4 linked regions of the Homo sapiens genome follow. The protein of the gene in region 3 interacts with the protein of the main gene of each other region in a pairwise test. Each region holds a gene or a part of one and is shown on either strand. Other genes may lie near its edges. The genes, in order: IGSF21, DEPDC7, SEPHS1 and GBP2.

Region 1 (3,669 bases), on a different chromosome or scaffold from region 3:
CCAGAGGTAGCCTAATCACCCAAACAAACAACCTGACTGAGCACCTGCTATGTGTTTTGTGGAGGACTCAACAGTGAACAGAACCAGATGGGGTCCCTGCCTGGGTGGAGCAGGGTCTAGTGGGTCAGGGGATTGGAAGTTCACTATAAGATTGGCCTCCATCTGTACATTTTACTAGCGGGGAACAACTTGAGTCTCACACTGCACTCAATGGGCCTCAAGACTCCAGGGAAAGACAGAGGGCAGGCGGTGGGATTGGTCACCCCCAGCCAGAGGGCCATGAACCATCCTCTGTGCATTACCAAGAGTGCACTGACTGGCAACTCCAAGGCTGGCACTGGTCATCACACCTAGAGAGGTTATCACATGGGATCCTTTCCTTGCAAGCAGCAGAAATTGACACTAGACTCTCAAGCCAAAAAATGTAACCAATGAGAACACTACGAAAAAGTCGAGTAACGCAAGGACTGGGGCTGCTTCAGCGGGTACTCATCGTTACCATGGTTAACACTAGTAACAAGCATCAGAGCCCACGGGACTGAGCTAAGAGCTCTGCTTGTAATGCCTGATTCCACCCTCTCAGTACACTGGGAGATAGGTCCCATCATTATCAGTCTCAGGAAACCAACAAAGGACGGTTTCCTGGGGGTCCCAGGGGCAAGGGGGACATTCTAGTGTCTCTCAGTCTTTGTGACACTCCGCTCAATATTCAGATTCCAGGGCCCATCTTGGGGATGCCTTACCCAGTAGTTTCACCCACCAAGATGTCATGCAATTTATGTGTTGGGTGGGGTGGGGGTGGGGTGCGGGGTTGGTGTGATTTCCCAAAGCAAATTTAGTATGTGGCCAGAAGATGTAACAAAGGCTGGTGGAAAAACCAAACACCAGATTCCTTTCCTGGGAGGGGACTAAAGTCTGGGTCTCAGAAAAACCCCACCCCCAAGCCACACCCTGCCCACGACCTGTCTCTCCTGCTCTTTTGGGCTGCAGAGGTGACTGAACAGGGCCTGCATCTCCAGCCCCATACACACTACCTTTATTGCTCCATCCATGGAATCTTAGCCGGGGGTCTTAGTGAACATGAGCCCCCTCCACTCCTGGAGCTCACTGTAGCATAAAGGTGGGTTCCAGGATCTCACCACCCCAATCTTCCCTGGAATTTCATCCTAAAGAAGGACACCTCCTAGGAAGTGATCTCATGTGTTTTACCACCACTGACATTTATCATTTGAAATGAACAGCTTTGCAGCCTCCTACAAGTAGTAAGGGCTGCTGTACTCCCTTTCCAGTGATGAAAAAGCAGCTGTCTCTGGATTGCTTCAGACCTGGTTTTGAAACTCCCAGTTCCTCCACTTACAAAAGATCCTGAACCTCCTTTTATTTAAAAAGAAAAAAGAAGGCAAAAAGAAAAAAGAGAGGAAGGGAACAGGAGTGGATGGGGGAGGAAAGGAGGTGGAGAGGGAGGATGGACAAAATAGATTGTCGTTCATCTTTTCGGAAACATGCCCAGTCTCTCGCTGCCCTGGGATGAGGATCACACTCATAGGCCTTGCTCTTTTCACATGTGCCCTGCCCACAGCAGATGCCTATTCATTCTCTTGGTGATGGCAATAGCTTTCAGGGACACTCCCTCTCCCATCTGTGCAGATGAACACCCTGGATGATTCTATTTCAGTGTGGGTTTGGGAAGGAGTCAGGCATCCAGACAGGAGACTGGACACATCCATGTGGCTGGGGCTCAGGAAATGATCACCAGGAGACAGCAGAGCATGGAGGGAGGAAGCACAGGCCAGGGAGTCAGAGGGCCCTGTATCTGAATTCCTGCTTGCCATTCAATGACTCTGCAGCCTTGGCAAAGTCACCTAGCCTCTCTGAGCCTCAGTTTCCTCATCTACAAAATGGACTTCATTTTACTTCTCAGGGTGCTTGTAAGGATTCTGTAAGACAAGAAAGATAAAGCACATGGCGTGACACCTAGCTCAGTTAGGGCCAGAGAGAGATAATAGCCCCTTCCTCCCTCTAAATGAAGCATCAATTTCCCACTGAGCCTTAAACACCATAGAGGCAGGGGACTCCTCTACCAAGCTCAGGGCCGTTTTCCCAATGCTCAGCACCGTGTCTGGCACATAGTGTACAATAAGCATTTGTTGGATGCATGAATAAATGAATTCCTGGTGGCCTGGGGCTATAGCGGAGGCGGGCAAGGTGGTAAGCCAGGCTGTCAACTGCCTAGGTTAAATACCTCTACAGATCCCAGGAAACCCAGTTAATAGAACTAAACAGCCTCTATTTTGTCGGTCTCTGCCTTTGAAGTCACACACCACTATAAACCAGGCACCTAACTAAGCAAGTCCCCTAAGCTCCTCCACCTCCTTCCCCTACTCCGTCCTCTGCCCATCTTGCCAGAGTGTAGTGAAGTTCAAGTGTGTCTGTGACTGACGTTCTGAAATATCAGAGTAGCAGGCAGATCTGAGGCATCACTCAGATGACCTGGGTCCTTCTCTACTCACATGCCCTGCCCAAGGGATTCTTTGCGGCCAGAGAGAGGAAAGGAAGATTCAGCGGAAAGAGGAGCCTGGGGCAGAACTAGGAGGGAGCGGAAGGAGCCTGTACTTCTGTCATTAACAAGTCTTAAACCTCAGAACCTCAGTTTCCTAATCTGTGAAAAGAAGGTCTTAAATCTATCTTGCAGCATGAATGAGGACTGCGAAGCAGCAGCCAGCATCCTGCTTGACACATCGCAGCTGATCCATATAATCGGGGCTATTGGAAAAACAAAACCCCAGCTACAATACTAGCTGCGGAGGAAGGGAGCAGTCTTGAGGTTGTGAAAGACTTGTGTGGAAGGAGCGCTCGATGTGGGCCTCATCCCCAGCATCCACCAGGGCAGCTTTACTTTAAGATCTATCATCTTGCTCAAGGTATTGGGATTTTAGGAGGGTGATAATGTTTCCTCTAAAAGGGTTTTCCTACTTAAAAGAAAAAGAAAAACACACAAGTTTCAAAACCACCGAAGTGAGTGATCTCCGAGGTCGCTCCAGCTCGAATATTCTCTGCACTTAAAACACGAAAATGAAAAACTCCCATTTGCAGAGCGGTTATGGGGTGGAAGAGGGGTGGAGTTTATGGCTAGGGGCGGGGCCACGCTGGAGGGGCATGGGCGAGGCAGCCTGCAAGGGATTAGGGCCCTTAACTCCCCCAGTTGGGGCTGGAGAAGAAACCCTGCCGCGCCAGAGGCCCCGCCCAGTGGGAAGGGGGCGTGTGAAGGGAGGATAAATATATAAAGTCGTCACACCCGCTCGCGCGCGCACAGCCCCCGCAGTCTCGGCGTTGCGGTTGCGGCGGCCTAGCGGAGACAGCCCCTCCATCCCATCCACCTGCTGACACGCGGCTGCGGAGACAGAGAACCCGAGAACCCGAGAACCCGCAGGGCCGCCCACCTCCGCCCGCGCAATCCCGGAGACCCCCGGCTGGGGCCGTGGGCTACCCCTAACTGGGGCTGCCCCCACCCTGCTCTCAGCGGAACGTTTCCCAGGGCTGAACAGCGGCTAAGGACCACTCCTCCATCCCCAGCCCGGCGCCACTGCACAGGCTCCAGTGCAGGACTTCCCAGAAGTGCCCAGGCACGGTTCACGGGGGCTGGAGGAGTTGAAAACGCCCCAGGACACG
Region 2 (4,214 bases), on a different chromosome or scaffold from region 3:
ATTTAGTGAATCTAAAATTTTATTTTAAAAGTAGAAAGAAAAGGGAGGTATCTTTCTTCCTCTTCCTTCCTCTGAACTCAGAGGACACAGTCCCCAACCTTAGGAGTTTACCTTTTATTTACTCCTACTACCTGGATGATAATGTCAAGTTCTGAATAGTATTCAATCACATAAAGGCCAACAGGAGATGAGAAGACAAGATGTGACACATACCAGAGGATTTAACTTTTCATCAGAAAATAACACATCTATAAATCCTAGACCATTTAGGATTTAAGAGAATTTTAAGAAAGATTTTTTCAAAAGAGGTTTTAAAATATTACTCACACAAAGAATTGTCAAGACAACAAAGAAAAAGGACATTTGTTGGATAGTAACCAAAACCTCATGAAAATATTAATAGATAAATGTAAAGAGAATTGTGTTTATGGTGTTAAAACTTGACAGTTGTGACTGAGTGGAAAAATTTTCTATACTATGATCCCAAGATTACAACACTTTTACTGGATATTGGTTCTGGTAGTCCAAAGTTTATTTTCCTGCTAGTTGGCATTAGAGGCGTCATGCTGAAGACTGCGATTGCCTCTGAAAAGAAGGCTGCAGGTAGGTAAAAGAAGTCTACCAACAAGAAAAATTTACAATATCTACGAGAATTATCAGCAAAAGCAGACATTGGTCTCTGCTTTAATTCACATACATTAATGAGACAGCATATGGGAAGTACTTTGAGCTCCCTGGAAAAGTGATACCAGGCAAACTCAAAGAATTAGGTTACAGTATAAAGGGATAACAGGATAACAGACTACTTTCTTGTTTGTCGTATTAAAAGACAAGTGTTTTTGACATACTGGCTGAAGACTGGCATATAGATCTCATTTCTTGTACATAAATCAGGTCCCTGGTCATTACAGCCCCTTTAAGGTAAGTGAGAGTTACTAATCGGTGGAGAAACAAAAGTACAAAGCTGCCTGCCAGAGCACACAGAAAGAGAATGGCAAAGAACCAATAACCGTGTGCTCCCACTACCTTGCTCACTGGAACTATGACAAGGCAACTAAAGGGTGAAAGAAAGGCTAACAAATGTTACCAGGTCGGGATTCCAGCGGTAGCAAGCAAAACGAGTGAGAACAACAGCGGGCCCCTCTCCGTCCACTGCAGCTAGTGTGCCGAGGACAGTGTTCCTTTGATTCCTGATAACCAGCACTTCAACTCTTCCCTTAGAGAGTTATCTACTTAATTTCTGAATACATACTTCCTTACACCATCTAAGAACCTGTTCACAAATGCCCAAAGCTCCAGAATTGGTATTTCAGCTATTAGAGAAAACAGGGTACCATGTTTTTATTTTAAGCAGGTGACATTTGGGAATTTCCTTCACTGAGTAAGTGGGCCCAAAAGATTTCTCAAGACTGTTTTCAATGTCATTTGGTTTTAAATTCCCAAATGTCTTAGCATTTGTCTTCTCTTCACAACATAAATCAAGGAGACATTCTCAATGTGGCCACTATGTGCTTACCTGAATCCTTTACATGGAAGCAGACTAAGGTCAATATTATGATTTTTCTTAGAAAAGGACAAGTGAAAAATGGTTCTCTACCATAATCTGTCGTTAGCATTTTGAAGATTAAAATGAGCATTAGTGAGTAAGTCAAACACAAGAGTGGGGCCACTGAGAAGCACCCATTTGACCCAGAGGAAGGAATCACAGTTTCACTGGTTGGTGTTTTTACAAATGAAAGGCTTTTGTCAGAAAGGGAACTAATTCCTACGACATCCCAGACTGGAGCTCCAGAAAGGGGAAAAAGTTGTAACTTAACCAAAAGAAAAAAGCCAAGGGTTATCTGAGTATCTTAACAGTTATCTGAGTCACCCCTATTAACTGGGTTGTAGATCTGCTATAACCAGCATTTTAGAAGTGATATCCGATTCTCTTCATGTGTTTGAACATTTAAAGAAACCAGAATCCTAAATCAACTGCCCCCAAAAGACACGATTAGGCCCGTGGCAGAATTTGCCAACTTCCCTCCTAATTTCATGTAACTGTTTTTTTAGCCAAAAACTTCTATTCACTAAAATACTGCTTATACATAAAGTGTTAATAAATACCTTTTATGCCAAATTCCTGCCAGTAGAACTCACATAAACCTCTCATCCCTCCCAGGAAGAGTCTGGGGAGACAAGCTGACTCTTGACTCCTAGCAGTCTGGAGAACAAAGTGGGCAAGGGAGGAGCTCGGCCCCTGGCCATACTGTGTCGTCAAGGTTTGTGGTTGAGACAGGGGGCAAAGAACTACACAAATTCCAGATACCACACTTGTCACCGGTAGCACCGCGGAGCATATCCCGGAGCTCCCCGGCGCGTGCCTGGCACGTTAGCGGGCGCACAGACCAACGCGCGGTCAAGTTGAGAGTCTGGGTAGAAAGAAAAAAGCTGGGCTGTGCGGGCGGGCTCTGCCGCTTGCAGCCCACCAGCCAGAGAGGAACTCGATCCGCCCGCTCGGCGGGGGCGTTGGCCAAGTGGTCGCAGCTGTGCTGTGCTCGCCCAGCCGGCCGTTGACAGGCGCAGGCGGCCGAACGCCCCACGCCGCCCGCCCCGCGCCGGGACCCAGCCCGCGCACCCCAGCCCGCCCCGCGCCATCCCAGGCGGCAGTCCTCGGCACCTACCCGGAGGCCTGTGCGCGGGGCTGTGGAGAGCCGAGAGGTTCAGCGCAGCAGCCTTCTCCTGCACGGTGGCCATGGCCCTTGCTCCCCGGACGCCAACTCCTCCAGCAGCTTCACAGCTCCCTAGCTCCCTGAGCGCCCGTCTGTTAACTGTGCGGGGCGTGGCTCCCTGCAGGCCCCGCCCCCGCTGCCGGTCACGTGTCTCTCTGGCAACCACTGAACGTAGCCCGCGGCGCCAGCGATCCAAGTTTCCTCGGGCGCGATGCCACGCGAGCGGTGGTCGGGGACAAAGCGGTTCCCTGGGCCGGCACTACGCGGCCCGCGGCTCACACCAGCGGGATTCGAACCGCGGCCTGCCGTAGATTAACTCGGGACCAGGCCGGGCGCGGTGGCTCACGCCTGTAATCCCAGCACTTTGGGAGGCCAGGGCAGGTAGAGCACCTGAGGTCAGGAGTTCGAGAGCAGCCTGGCCTACATGGCGAAACCCCTTCTCTACTAAAAATACAAAAATTAGCTGGGCTTGGTGACAGGCGCCTGTAATCCCAGCTACTCGGGAGGCCGAGGCACAAGAATCGCTTGAACTCAGGAGGCGGAGGTTGCAGTGAGCCGAGATCCACCACTGCACTCCAGCCTGGGCGACACAGCGAGACTCCGTCTCAAAAAAAAAAAAAAAAAAAAAAGAAATAGAAAAAGTCGGGAACCTGGCAAGCTGCCTAACTGCTCTGTGCGTCGGTGTCCTCACCTGTGATGCGGGGGTAGGTTTAGTACCTGCTTCACTGAGATGTTTGTTTGTTTTTTAACGAGGTTTATAGGAACCAATTCAGGTTCAGCATTTAGTAACTGCGTCCGGAACGTAAGTGCTTAAAATTATGTCATAGTAGTAGTAGTAATAGTGATAATAACAATAATAATCGAGTTTTTCAGACATCCCTACCTGTGCAGAACAAACAAATCCTATGTGGCCCAGGAGAGCAATGTCTAGAGGTCACAGGAGGGCAGCAACGAAAGACCCTGGGACTGGCTGCCAGGAAATCTGTGCTGCCTCCAAAGGAACTGTGGGTCGGGTGGGTAGGGACAGTTTGCTGCCGGTTGGAGTGAAGGTGAGGAGAGAAAAGGAGGAAGGGCTATTAATGGGACACATCTTAGTTACTTGGAAGTTGAAGCCAGGCCAGGGATCCAATGCTGGATACCTCTGAAAGGATGAGTGGTCTTAGAGACCAATAATCCAATTGCCAGACACTTGCCCTTTTTTTTTTCTTTTTTTTCAAGTTTGGGAATTTTGCAATGATTTTCAAAACGATTATGACGTCTTCTTAGAAGGAGGATGCTTGTGTGATTTAGGTGTAAATTAGAATGGTGTTTAAGTGGGAGTTCATTATTTAGCTTATTGGAAAGAGCTTCTACATGGGATTGTTTCAGAGAATACATACTAAGAAGCTGCCCCTGGGGACTTGGGTTTGTGGGTGGGAGGTGGGGGCCAGTTGCTGCTGCTTAGTGTTAGAAAAAGCTGGCCAGGCACGGTGGCTCACGCCTGTAGTCCCAGCACTTTGGGGG
Region 3 (3,669 bases):
CTCGGCCTCCCACAGTGCTGATATTACAGGTGTGAGCCACCATGCCCAGCCAACACTGCTTTAAATACAAATTCTTCCTCTTGGGATCATAAGACTTACACGGACCTCTAAGTACCCAACATTTTCTCTTTATAAATATCAATCTTCACAAATATTATTTCCTTAAGTACATACTCCACTTAGCTCCCTCCTCTCAATAGGCCTGCCACTGAGGAAAACACCAGCTCTCACGGCACAGGCTACACTGAAGTTCAGTCATCGTTATTTAAAAAAAAAAAAAAAAAAAAGCTCAACAGTAGGTTTATCTCACTAGAGGTTTCCAACACACTTTATTTTGCAGACCACTGGTTTGTAGCTTTTGAGGACCAACATCTCTATCAATTCCTATAAAATGTCCAATCACTTTCAGTTCCGTAGCAGGCTCTTCCATACTGCACACCATGCTTATGGCTGGAGGTCCAGTTACACATGCATGAAGGCTGCCCTGCCCACTGGTTCCTGGAGGAGGGCGCGTCCGAGTTAAAGCCTCTTCCAGGAGCTTGAACTTCCCAGGGGTCATTTCCTTTGGCAAGAAGTCAGTTTACATGTGCAGCTTTGGTGCCTGTGAGCAGAAAGCACCAGAAATGGGCAGGATGTGCTGCTTTTTCTCTCACGAAGATGGGCACTTGAGGATCCAGCGCCCTTGTGCTTAATGACAGGAATCCCTCCTCATTGCTTAGTAGGTTAAAATATAAGGAAGCCTCCACTTTACATAACACAGAGAACACCTTTTTAGATTGCCTATTTATTCTAGAACTACAAAATTTAATTCAAGAAAATATAGGTCCCATGAAAGACTTAAAAGTTTTATAAAACTAAAATCTAGTTTTTCCCGATAAATTGTACTTTAGGCAAAACCCTCCCAACGCTTCTAAAATAATACTAAAAGGGGCATCTGATTATACAAGAGCAATTTAAAAAATTAAATATTTATTTGAATAACAAGTTTAAGTTCGAGCTGCAATGTTGGCAATGCAGGTTTTTAACACAGATCACAAAAAGCGTGCACAAAAAAGTACTGGCGCAAAGGACAAAATAATGCTAAGAATTAGGCCAAACAGCTGCTGATTTTAAGAAAACAAAAGGCCTGAAATCACTGTACAAAATAGAAAATGTATTAAACACTACCATCCACAGAACAGTCTTTACTATTGATTATATTTAAAAATTATTTGTGTAATTATATATTGAATTGTAAATGAGTATTATACATGAACCTCCATTCGGAAGGCAATTCCTTGTAGCACTATAGAACATCTAATAACATTGCAAAAAGTATCCTTTTTTGCTATCGATAAAACAGTTAATGGTATTACTGTAAATATCAGGAAGGCTACAAAAAAAGAAATAAGATTTCTTTTTTGTCTTCAAAGTGTTTTCCATGCAATGAAGCACTTGCTGTGTTGAACTGAATGCACTACTGGAGAATGTTCTGGGTCCGAGATGCTCTTGAGAGACAAGACTAGGCTTTTCAAATCAAACACTCAAAGGAATCATGCAACCCTCTTATGACTGGGATACCGTCATGTGCCACTTACCAATGCTGTCTCTCCAGAAAACCATTCAAGACGCTTAAAAAAAAAAATCAGACTTATATGATAAATATACATAAAATGAAGACACCAACTGCTATTTGACACGACTACGGGTAATGCCTGTGCTATGTGAAAGCACCTTTAAAAAGCCTATGCGGCAAGAGATAAGTGTCTAAAGATTCAAAATGAATCAACAGTATTGGATAACAATATAATTCTCAACTCAGAAGCTGCCTCAAGATTAGGTGCATCTTCAGTTAATGTAACAGGAAAAAAAGGCAATGGATTTTATTTTATTAATTGTATCCACTTACAAACCGACCTAAGGTCACCCCGATGTGTAGACACAATGAGATTTTTGTTGTTTATAGTCTTTAATTGAAGTGATAAGGGAAATAGATCTATTTAAAAACAAAACCAAACAGCTATTTCTGTCTAGATTAAGAGGTGGCCCCGGGTGTGGGATTCACATTTTGAGTGGCCACTTGTGGTGCGACCTCGATGATCCGGGGTTTGTCTATGATTCTGGCTGTGCGGTTGCCCTTCTCTACAATCCCAATAATCCATGCTTGGTGGCCTTCACCATATTTGGGGGACTTTATCTCTGCACAGAACCGAGCTGCTTGCTCACGTGGTAAACAGATCAGAAGGCCGCCTGGCAAAAGAAAACAAGAATGACTGTTAGTGTTGACATGACAGCAGCTTCTCTGCCTCTGCTGCTTCTGCAGAGATCCAACTTCCATCAACAACTTGCTGCCACCTATATGCAAGTAGCTCTTCCCATTCAACTAAGCAGCTTTTTTTTGAGACAGGGTCTCACTCTGTGGCCCAAGCTGGAGTGCAGTGGTACAATCACAGCTCACTGCAGCCTCAATGTCCTGGCTCAGGTGACCCTCCCACTTCAGCTTTCCCAGTAGCTGTGATTACAAGTGTGCACCACCACACCTGGCTAATTTTCTGTAGAGACAAGGTTTCACTGTGTTGTCCAGGCTGGTCTAAAACTCCTGGACTCAAGCAATCCACCTGCCTTGGCCTCCCAAAGTGCTGAGATTACAGGAATGAACCACCACTCCCAGCCTAAGAGGCCTGTTCTATGCTGTAATTAAGCAATTGCTAGTAAACTCCTAACACACACACATATACACTCCAACTTTCAACTGTGAAAATGACCTATTCGTGAACCACATAACACTGTGTAGGGGTAAGGTGTTTGGGGCTTCAATAACCCATGTGGTAGCTATTTTTTCCAAGCTACACTGAAACAAATATTGACAAACAAAAGGGAACTTTTGATTCTCTACATCGACTCTCTCATTTTACCGAGAATGCTTTTTTGTATTTTTAGAAAATTTAAGACTCATGAAACAGTGTATGCCCCAAAGTATCTAGGTTCCAGTCATGACTCTGTCATTATATCCAAAAGACAAACAGTATAAAATACATTAAAATAAACCTTTGTTGCTCTTTCCAGTAAATAGGCCATAAATTTTTTTTTTTTTTGAGACGGAGTCTCGCTGTCTCCCAGGTTGGATTGCAGTGGTGTGATCTCGGCTCACTGCAAGCTCCACCTCCCGGGTTCACACCATTCTCCTGCCTCAGCCTCCTGAGTAGCTGGGACTACAGGCGCCCGCCACCACACCCGGCTAATTTTTTGTATTTTTAGTAGAGACAGGGTTTCACCGTGTTAGCCAGGATGGTCTCGATCTCCTGACCTCGTGATCCACCCGCCTTGGCCTCCCAAAGTGCTGGGATTACAGGCGTGAGCCACTGCACCGGGCCAAAATTTATTTCTCTAAGTAGAAATAAGATGATGAGGAAAAACTGTAGTCTACTTCTACAAAATGTAAAAACCTTGTGGCTGGGCATGGTGGGTCACACGTGTAATCCCAGCACTTTGGGAGGCCGAGGCGGGTGGATCACCTGAGGTCAGGAGGTAGTTCAAGACCAGCCTGGCCAACATGGTAAAACCTCGTCTCTAAATTAGCTGGGCATGATGGCACAGCCCTGTAATCCCAGCTACTCGGGCTGAGGCAAGAGAATCGCTTGAACCGGGGAGGGGGAGGTTGCAGTGAGCTGAGATCGCGCCATTGCACTC
Region 4 (3,669 bases), on a different chromosome or scaffold from region 3:
TGTGCTGTTTTGTCACTTCACAGGCCCAGTTGGAAGCAAGGCGAGATGACTTTTGTAAGCAGAATTCCAAAGCATCATCAGATTGTTGCATGGCTTTACTTCAGGATATATTTGGCCCTTTAGAAGAAGATGTCAAGCAGGGAACATTTTCTAAACCAGGAGGTTACCGTCTCTTTACTCAGAAGCTGCAGGAGCTGAAGAATAAGTACTACCAGGTGCCAAGGAAGGGGATACAGGTAAACTACACGGTGGGTACCATTTCTTGGGACTCGCTGAGGGGATGCTTTTAAAGCCCACTGGGAAGAAGGTAAATGGCACTGCAACTGGTGCCTAGGGCCTCTGCCTTTCATTTTTCCATTTACTGATTCATTCAATAAGAGAGCCCACCATAACAGGAATTCCTCCTCAGAAGCACAGATGTAGCCCTCAAAAAGAGGTTTATCGAATTGACTCATTTATTTATTCATCTAGTCATTCAACAATTATTTATTTTGACCTAACTGTATACCAGGAACTTGTCAAGTTGCTGGGGATACGGCAGTTAAAAAAAAAAGTTCAAGCTCTGTCAAAGTACACACAGGCAATTAGCAAATGATAGCTTATGAACAAATAATAATAACAGTTAACATTTATGTTGCACTTACTGTGTTCCAGGAACTGGGCTGAGAGCGTTATTCATTTAATACTCAGAGCAATTCTATAAAATATGTATTACTAATATCCGAAATTTGTAATTTTTTTATTTTTTTACTTTTGTGGGTACATATGGTACATAGTAGGTGTATATACTTATGGGGTACATGAGATGTTTTGATATAAGTATGAAATGCACAATAATCACATCATTGAAAATGGGGTATTTGTCGACTCAGGTATTTATCCTTTGTGTTACAAACAATCCAATTACACTTTTTTAGTTATCTTAAAGTGTACAATTAAATTATTATTGACTATAGTCACCCTTTTGTGCCATCAAGTTTTATGCTCTCAAGTATGTTGTGCTATACTTGATTTTATTCATTCTTTCTAGTTGTTTTTACCCATTAACCATCCCCACCTCCCTCCCCCCACCACCCCATTACCCCCTCAGCCTCTGACAACCATCCTTCTACTCTCTATCTTCATGAATTCAATTGTTTTGATTTTCAAATCCCACAAATAAGTGAGAACATGCAATGGTTTTCTTTCTGTGCCTGGCTTATTTCATTTAGCATGATGACCTCAAGTTCCACGTTCTTGCAAATAACAGATCTTATTTTTGTTTATCAGTTCTAATAGTTTTTTTGGTGTGGAATCTTTAGATTTTTCCAAATATAAGATCATACCATCTGCAATAAAGGAGAGTTTGTCTTCTTCATTTCCAACTTGGATGCCCTTTATTTCTTTCTCTTTACTGATTGCTCTCGCTAGTATTTCCAATAGTATGGCAAATAACAGTGGTAAATGTAGGCATATTTGTTGTATTCCAGATGTCAGAGGAAAGTATTTTTGTTGTTCTTCCCATTCAGTATGATAATAGCTGTGAGTCTGTCATACATGGATTTTATTATGTTGGGGTATGTTCCACCTATACCCAGTTTTTTTAATGTTTTATTAATGAAGGGATATTGAATTTTATCAAATGTTTTTTCAGCTTGAATTGAAATGATCATATGGTTTTTGTCCATTCTGTTGATAGAATTTATCACATTGATTGATTTGCATATGTTGAGCCGTCCTTGCATCCCAGGGATGAATCCCACTTGGTCATGATGAGTGATCCTTTTAATGTATTGTTGAATTTGGTTTGCTAGTACTTTATTGAGGACTTTTGCATCAATTTTCATTAGAGATATTGTAGAGTTTTTAAAATTATTTCATTTCATATAGGTTTTGGGGGGAGCAGGTGGTGTTTGGTTACATGAATAAGTTCTTTAGTGGTGATTTCTGAGATTTTGGTGTACACTGTACCCAGTGTGTAGTCTTTTATCCCTTGCCCCCTCTCCTTTCCCACAAGTCCTCAAAGTCCACTGTATCATTCTTATGCCTTTGTGGCCTCATATAATAGCTTATCTCCAATTTATGTGTGAGAACATAGGATGTTTGGTTTTCCATTCCTGAGTTACTTCACTTAGAATAATAGTCTGCAGTTCCATCCAGGTTGCTATGGATGCCATTGTCTTTTTCCTTTTTATGGCTGAGTAGTATTCCATGGTGTGTGTGGGGGGGTATTATATGTTTTACATATATATGAAACAATTTTTTATCCACTCATTAATTGATGGGCATTTGGGCTCATTCCATATTTTTACAATTGCGAATTGTGCTGCTATAAACATGCGTATGCAAGTATCTTTTTTGTGTAATGACTTATTTTCCTCTGGGTAGATACCCAGTGGTGGGATTGCTGGATCTAACCCACAATCACTCTTTCTTCATTCTACCTTTCTCTGTATAACCAGGCCAAAGAGGTGCTGAAAAAATATTTGGAGTCCAAGGAGGATGTGGCTGATGCACTTCTACAGACTGATCAGTCACTCTCAGAAAAGGAAAAAGCGATTGAAGGTGAGAACAGCTGAAAACACTCTACATGGTCGGAAAGCTCTCAAAATGTTAGTTAGCAATATTGGTCCACCTGGAATTATTATTGTAGAGAAAGAATGGCAAGTATCATTCATAGTTCTATGAGAGTTTTCTTAACTAATCTGTATGATCATTGGTTTTCTGGTTACCCAAGGCAAAATTACAAGAAGTTTTCTCAATGATGTAAGGATAAGACAAACAAAAACGAGGGAAAGGAAAAGGGAACACCTACAATTGAATATTCATATCTTTTTCTGCTTATTTTTCTTCCACAGTGGAACGTATAAAGGCTGAATCTGCAGAAGCTGCAAAGAAAATGTTGGAGGAAATACAAAAGAAGAATGAGGAGATGATGGAACAGAAAGAGAAGAGTTATCAGGAACATGTGAAACAATTGACTGAGAAGATGGAGAGGGACAGGGCCCAGTTAATGGCAGAGCAAGAGAAGACCCTCGCTCTTAAACTTCAGGTATTCAATTGCATCATCTCAATTTTCTCTTCCAGTGCCCCATATCGAAAATGAAGTATAAGGTTGAGAACCTAATGCCTCCCAAAAAAACTTTCTAGCCCAGACACTACTACATTTTTCCTTCCCTAACTATTTTTATGCCAGTCATCTCTGGTTAGTAAAGACTGTTTACTTGCAGGATACAATCACATGGAATTCTTTATTATGCTATCACTAATAAACATTGCTAGGCACTGCACAAGTATTTTACATTATGTGATCAAATTTTCCTTTAATGGTAGAGGAACTATTAGTTTCTCATTTGCTAAATGAAGTAATTATAATCTCATGAGCAGTAAGTAACTTTTCTGCATCAGACTACCTAGAGAAATATCTAGCCAGTCTTTCCTACTGAGAGGGATCCATGGGGATTTTGTTTCTGTTATGCCTGCTAAGACTTTATGTCTGGAAGCACTGTTATGAGTAGAAAGATTCCCTAACCAGGCCAGGTGCAGTGGCTCACACCTGTAATCCTAGCACTTTGGGAGGCCGACGGGGGCGGATCACCTCAGGTCGGGAGTTCAAGACCAGCCTGACCAACATGGAGAAACCCCGTCTCTATCAAAAATACAAAATTAGCTGGGCATAGTGACGCATGC

The links.
Region 1: the proteins of SEPHS1 (region 3) and IGSF21 interact in a two-hybrid assay, tested with the Homo sapiens proteins (one large-scale study listed by BioGRID and IntAct).
Region 2: the proteins of SEPHS1 (region 3) and DEPDC7 interact in a two-hybrid assay, tested with the Homo sapiens proteins (one large-scale study listed by BioGRID).
Region 4: the proteins of SEPHS1 (region 3) and GBP2 interact in a two-hybrid assay, tested with the Homo sapiens proteins (one large-scale study listed by BioGRID and IntAct).

What each region holds. Positions count from the first base shown.
Region 1 is NC_000001.11:18,110,737-18,114,405, reverse strand, and holds part of IGSF21 (immunoglobulin superfamily member 21 precursor), read right to left. Parts: intron 1-3,669. UniProt on the Homo sapiens protein: Involved in synaptic inhibition in the brain. Selectively regulates inhibitory presynaptic differentiation through interacting with presynaptic NRXN2.
Region 2 is NC_000011.10:33,014,478-33,018,691, reverse strand, and holds the start of DEPDC7 (DEP domain-containing protein 7), read right to left. Parts: upstream 2,815-4,214; 5' UTR 2,737-2,814; coding exon 2,664-2,736; intron 2,576-2,663; exon of another isoform or gene 2,153-2,575; coding exon of another isoform or gene 2,107-2,152; intron 1-2,106.
Region 3 is NC_000010.11:13,317,128-13,320,796, forward strand, and holds the end of SEPHS1 (selenide, water dikinase 1), read right to left. Parts: intron 2,230-3,669; coding exon 2,015-2,229; 3' UTR 301-2,014; downstream 1-300. UniProt on the Homo sapiens protein: Synthesizes selenophosphate from selenide and ATP.
Region 4 is NC_000001.11:89,109,039-89,112,707, reverse strand, and holds part of GBP2 (guanylate-binding protein 2), read left to right. Parts: intron 1-23; coding exon 24-236; intron 237-2,441; coding exon 2,442-2,544; intron 2,545-2,837; coding exon 2,838-3,031; intron 3,032-3,669.